Regions from separate parts of the Homo sapiens genome. Here region 2 is linked to region 1. Evidence: fine-mapped expression QTL. A gene starts in region 1. The other region holds a variant in brackets. All regions are shown on one strand. Distances are between the middles of the regions.

What was found. PIP is the estimated chance that this variant, and not a neighbour inherited with it, causes the effect.
Region 2: its variant is fine-mapped to the expression of ZNF548 in lung (GTEx, PIP above 0.99).

What each region holds. Positions count from the first base shown.
Region 1 is chr19:57,388,406-57,391,218 of GRCh38, forward strand. It overlaps ZNF548 (zinc finger protein 548), which reads left to right and starts at 1,449. Exons shown (of 4, transcript NM_001172773.2): 1 at 1,449-1,709. The coding sequence starts at 1,695. RefSeq lists enhancers at 1,007-1,086, 1,227-1,706.
Region 2 is chr19:57,350,385-57,353,197 of GRCh38, forward strand. It overlaps ZNF304 (zinc finger protein 304), which reads left to right and starts at 887. Exons shown (of 3, transcript NM_020657.4): 1 at 887-1,313. The coding sequence starts at 1,281. RefSeq lists enhancers at 63-922, 880-969, 923-1,781, 1,120-1,189. The variant G/A (reference allele first, on the strand shown) is at 1,530.

The DNA of each region.
Region 1 (2,813 bases):
TGTAAACACAGGTGAAATTTTAAATCACTTCTGAGGAAGAAGATAACATCATGGAATTCCACACCTTTTTTGAGGATAAGATGTGCATATGCTTCAACTATGAAAACGGTAGACAATGTTGTCCAGAAATGGCATGTATCAGCTGCTCTTGAGAAATAAAAATAAAATTCTAAGCACCCCCTAACTGACTGAATGGATGCCCTCTTGACCATGAGAACCCTAGAATAACTTTGGAAGCTGAATTCACCACTATAGAGGAACGGGAAATCAGACACACCTCATTATATCCCCTACCACACTACAATCATTAGGTTTTCTTCCCTAAGGGCTAAATAGAAATCAACCTTTTCAGAAGACTACTAGCTTATCTTCCAAGGTACAGAACAGAGAGAAGATGAGATTATTCATTCCTTCATCCTTCTCTGAGACATCTTCTTTATTCCCTTTTCCCCTCACGTGTTTACTCTATCTTATGTAAAATGTAGATTTACTGGGCACTAACTAAAGTTTCACATGTCTGTAATCATTTGTCTCACTGCCAACCCCTCTTCCTTTTTAAGGAAAATGTATAATAAATACTAAACCTCCTAAGAACCTCTTTGGAAAAACCAGCCACAGATGCTTCTGTGACTTACATTTTTCTGGATGTGCCCTTAGGCTGGTCCAGTAATCCTCCATGATTTGTGACTTATGCCTCAATCACTCATTTTGGTCGTCACTCTCATTTTCAGATAGGATTGTGATTCTTAAAATAAATGGAAAATATCTCAGATATGAAGTAGTAAGTATTATTAGAATAAAAGCGTTGCACCCTTCGTAGGAACACAATCGCTGACTCTACAGTCAGGTAAGATGTATTCTCTTTGATCCAGAGGCATAGCTTCACCCTTTCAACCTACTTCAGCGTCTCCTGTCATCCTTCCTACAAATTCCAGTCCATAGCCCTAACTGCGTAGTCTTTCTTTCTTCTTCTGGACCAAACATATTGAAGCTTACTAAACAGACGCCAAAGCGTAACTGTATGTGTATTTGAAAAGCAATAATATGGCTGGCAGGCATGAGTAGAGGCAGACTGCCTTTATGGTATGGGGTGTCTCTTTGGACCTGTAGTTATTGGGAATTAGCTGTGCTTAATAGAGTCTTAAGTAATAAGTTGCTAACATTTCTGTAAATATCCTATACTACAATCCAAAAAAATACCGTATGTTGCCTTTAAGAGCAAGCCAAGCCCCCTCCTGTCTTTGGAGTCGGGGACTCCGTTTCCCAGCTCCCCTGACAGTGCCACTGGGCCTTTATCTGCCATATAAGGACTGATCAACGCTCTAAGACAAGTCCGGAAGCGGTGTCGAAACTTCATAACCCAGAAGACACTGCAGCTCTCGGCGGCACGACTTACCCAATAAAGGCTTAGAAGGGGACGTTTGCGTGCGTGCGCACCGTCGGAGGGCGGGACTTCCGCCGTCCTCCTGGTGGTGGTCGTTTTGGTTCTGTGTGGTGTTTCACCAACTTCGGCCTATGGCTCTGTCTGACGTCACCGAAGTGACGGAACGGAAAAGCGCGAGAAGCGGCTCGGTTCCCACCACGGAGAGGCGGGAGTGAGTCAACTGACAAGCGCTGGGGACAGTGGCGTCCTTGTCTTGCCTTTGTCGCTCCCGCCCCGCTCTTCCCTGGCTGGGCTGGCGGAGGCCTTGCTGATGAACCTGACTGAGGTGGGTGTCCCGTCCCAGGCTCCCCCGCCCGACCGGTCCTCCCAGTGCTGAAGCCCCCTGAAGGGGCCCTGCAGGTCAGGCCCCTTGTCCCGAAGAGAGGGGCGTTCCTGTGTGGGGTCCCCGTATCAGCCGATTTGATGCAGCCTCAGAGCTCCCGTTAGGGACCTCAGGTTCAGAGCATGGAGGCGCTGCCGAGTGGGCTGTGTTGGGGCGTCAGGGGTGTGTGTTGTTTCTGCGGGAAAGAGAGGGTTTTGTGAATTCTCGCTTGGAATGGCAACCTGAGCAGCCAGTAACCATGGAAGGTTGTCAAGGGAGGGACAGTTGGAGGGGGCAGGTCCAGAGTTCGAAGTTTCAAGTTAGGAAAACCAGGTTAGGAATGGACACAGGGAGACGCGAAAAGGCCCTGAGGCCACTGCAGTAGACCCAGGAGAATTATGGTTGGGGCTGGACCAGTGACAGTAGAGGGAGATGTGATGAGATTCTTCATAGGCCTGAAAGATAGGGCCCGTAGGTTTTCCTGGTGCTTCAGTTATGTCTGAACAAAGGCAGTGAAGAACCGTTTCAAGTGTTTGTTTTGTTTTTTGTTTTCTGTTTGAACGTTTGGAAGAATGGAGTTGGGGAAGTCAGCATAAAGAGCAGATTTCCGGGAGAAGATCACAGGTTGGATTTTGGACATGGTGATTCTCAAATGTCTCAAGATGGATATGTCACACAGACAGGTGGACATAAAGGTGTGGAGTCTGAGGAAGGGGATTGGGTTGGCGATACCAGACGGATGGAGGGCTTGGACTGGGCCAGAGAATGGTCTGAGGATCAGATTGAGTAGGTCGGTCTCGGGTTTTTTTTGTTTGTTTGTTTGCATAAATTTAAGGAGTCAAGTGCAGTTTTGTTATATGGATATATTTGCATAGTGGTCAAGTCTGGGCTTTTAATGTATCCATCGCCTGAATAATGTACATTGTATCCATTAAGTAATTTTTCATCACTCATCTTCGTCTCATCCTTCTACCTGTTTGGAGTCTCCAATGTTTGTCATTCCACACTCTTTGTCCATGTGTACACATTATTCAGCTTCCACTTGTAAGTGAGAACATTTGGTATTTG
Region 2 (2,813 bases), 38 kb before region 1:
CTCACTTCCCATATTCCTAATGAGGTTGGTTGTAGTGTTTTTCATCTTACTGATTTTTTTTTGTTTGTTTTTGTTTTGTTTTGTTTTTGGCTAATGACTTTAAAAGACCTCCAGTTCTTGAACTTCAGCTAGGGTCCCATCCCCAGAGTTTATCAGAAGGTATAGGTTGGGTCCAAGAATTCACAGGTTTTTTAAGTTCATAGTGAAGCTGATGCTGTAAAACTACATATCAAATTGGGAAGCAATGAATTAGAAGAGGCTCATGTTTTCGTCATGTTACATGTAAGTTCCTCCTTCACTTTTCGCCATGAATAAAAGTTCCCTGTGGCCTCACCAGAAGCAGATACGGGCACCATGCTTCCTGTACAGCCAGCAGAAAGGTAGCTAATTACATCTCTTTTCTTTATATGTTAGAAAAATTAGAAGGACATTCAATGTTTTACAAAAAGGCCCACAAACGAAATACAGACAACGTTCAATTTATTAATACGTTTCAATCCCCAAATCTGAGAGAGGTGAAGCAGGTTTCCCAGGGCCTCAGAAGCAGGATTGAAGAATGGGTCCCTTGCTGGCGACTTCAGTGGCGTGGCATTGTCCCAGGTGGCCATGGAAATCAGGGTGCATACCCTTTAAAAGCAGCTGTGGCCTCCGAGATATCGTTTTCCCAGTCTTTTCTCCCCCTCCCTGCACGACGCCTCTTGGCAGACATCCGGGAGAACCCGAAAGGCGCTCGTTGCCTGGTTGGATGCAGGGTACAAACTACGTTACCCAGAAATCTGTGCCCAGCTCATTGTTAGCCGGCGTGCAGCCAATGACAGCCCAGAAACTGGGCGTTTCCTGCTGCTCTGGGCTGCAGGGGCGAGACTTCTGGCGTCGCCGTCGTGACGTATTTTTCCTATGCCCGGTCCGTGCATTCTGGTTGTGAAGGCTGAGTTCTAGAGATCGGGTCGGCTTTCTACGCGGCTCTCGTGGAACCTAGCAAAGAAAGACAGTGAAGACTGCAGGACCTTCCTTCGCGCTTTTGTTACAATCCATGACCCCTGTCGTGGGACGGGCGGCCTCTCGCGGAGGTGTCTGCCGGGGCTGGGCTCTTACCGAGGCCTCCACACACGTCCTCTTGTCCTTGTCTCCCCCAGAAGCAGCCGCCTTAGTCTTGTGAGCGTTTTTACACCGGGTAGATTGAGACTTGGAGTGCTACACTCAGCCCGAGGGCGTCCAGCGCGGTGGAGGCGTGGGGTTTCGGCTGAGCCCACAGGGCACAGACTGTTCATCCGCTTCTCATGGCAGCGGCGGTGCTGATGGACCGGGTTCAGGTGAGTGGGGGCATCCCTCAAGCGCACCCCGGCCTGGTTGGTGTGTCCTGGGATGTTCGCTCTCATCGCGCACTTCAGGGTGCTCACTCCGTCGCATTATGTGGAGGGGTTCCGCTCCCCTCATCAGTGGCATAAGGTGTGGAACGGACTCGAAGGCGCAGGGGCAGTTCGTACAAATGCATGCATGGAGAGGAGAATGAGTTTGGGGAGTTCCGG[G/A]AACTCTCTGTGCCTGGTGAGAACAGGGACTAGGGGGTCAGAGGTAGGCCTGGAATGGCCGCCCGAGGAGCTGGTCCTCTCTTCTGAGGGTGCTGGGAGTCATGCAAGGTTTGGTACAGAGAAGGGAGGTCCTCTGACGCAGTTCTTAAAAGGCTCCCTCTGGCTGCAGAGTGGGTAGACTAGGGATTATAGGGTAGACGGGGAGATCAAGATGAAGTCTACTGAAATAGTCCAGGTGAGCGTTGATGGTCTGGGCCAGAGTGGTGGCAGCAGAGGTTAGAGAATGTATGGGTTTTGGGTTTTGTATGTATTTTATAAGGAAGGCTGACCAGATTCTCTGATGAGACATAGTGATGATATCCTGGGATTCTTCACATGACTGTCTTCACTTGAGACAGGGGGCAGTGAATGGAGGTCATTTCTAGTTTAGTGTCCTGAATCCAGGCCATGAGTTGTATGGAGTTATGTGGAGAAGTCCCCACCTGGCGACCAATGGGATGAGTACTGCAAAAGTATATCAGACCTAGGAACAGGTACGCTCAAATGCTTGTAGGATTGAGTTTGGAGCGCTCAGGGAATCTCAGGTCTTAATTACCTTTGTTGGAAACAGGTATCAGAGGAAGGAGTTAGGCAGGAATGGCTGGCCGAGGTGTCTTGAGTGTGGTAAAAGTCGTGGGAGATTTGGAGCAGAGGAGGGAGATGATCTGACTCAGATTTTAACATGCTCTCTCTGGCTTTCAGGTTGAGAACAGACTGTGAGCATGAGGGAGCAGCTACTGCAGTAGTGTTGATGGTGTCTGGTCTAGAGGTGTGGCTGTGGAGGTGAGAGAAGTTGGTAAATTTTCTGTTTTTTAAAGTAGGGTGATTGGATTTTTTGATGCGAAAGGTGAAAGAGAGGAGAGTCGTGGATGACCCTAAGGTTGGTTTGTTTTTGCTGTAGCTGGTAAAATTATGAAAATGCCATCAACTGAGATAGAGAAGTTGGCAGCAGGTATGATTTTTAGTGGTTATATCAGGAGTTAGGCTTTGGTCATGTTTAGGTTAAGAGGTCTCAGTTGTCATCTTAGTTGAGGCCTCAGGAAAACACACAGGTTTTTAGTTCTGGGGAAGGGTTCTGTTGAAGAAGTTGAAAAAAATGGTGGCCAGTGTGTGGAGTGGGATGGGGTATCTTCAAATCATGGTGGTAATGCTGTTATTCAGTAAGAAAGTTGAAACTGGACACTGAGAGAAAACTGGGTCTGTTGCTTAGGCACCTGGACGGCAGTGGTGGATAGTGTGAAGACG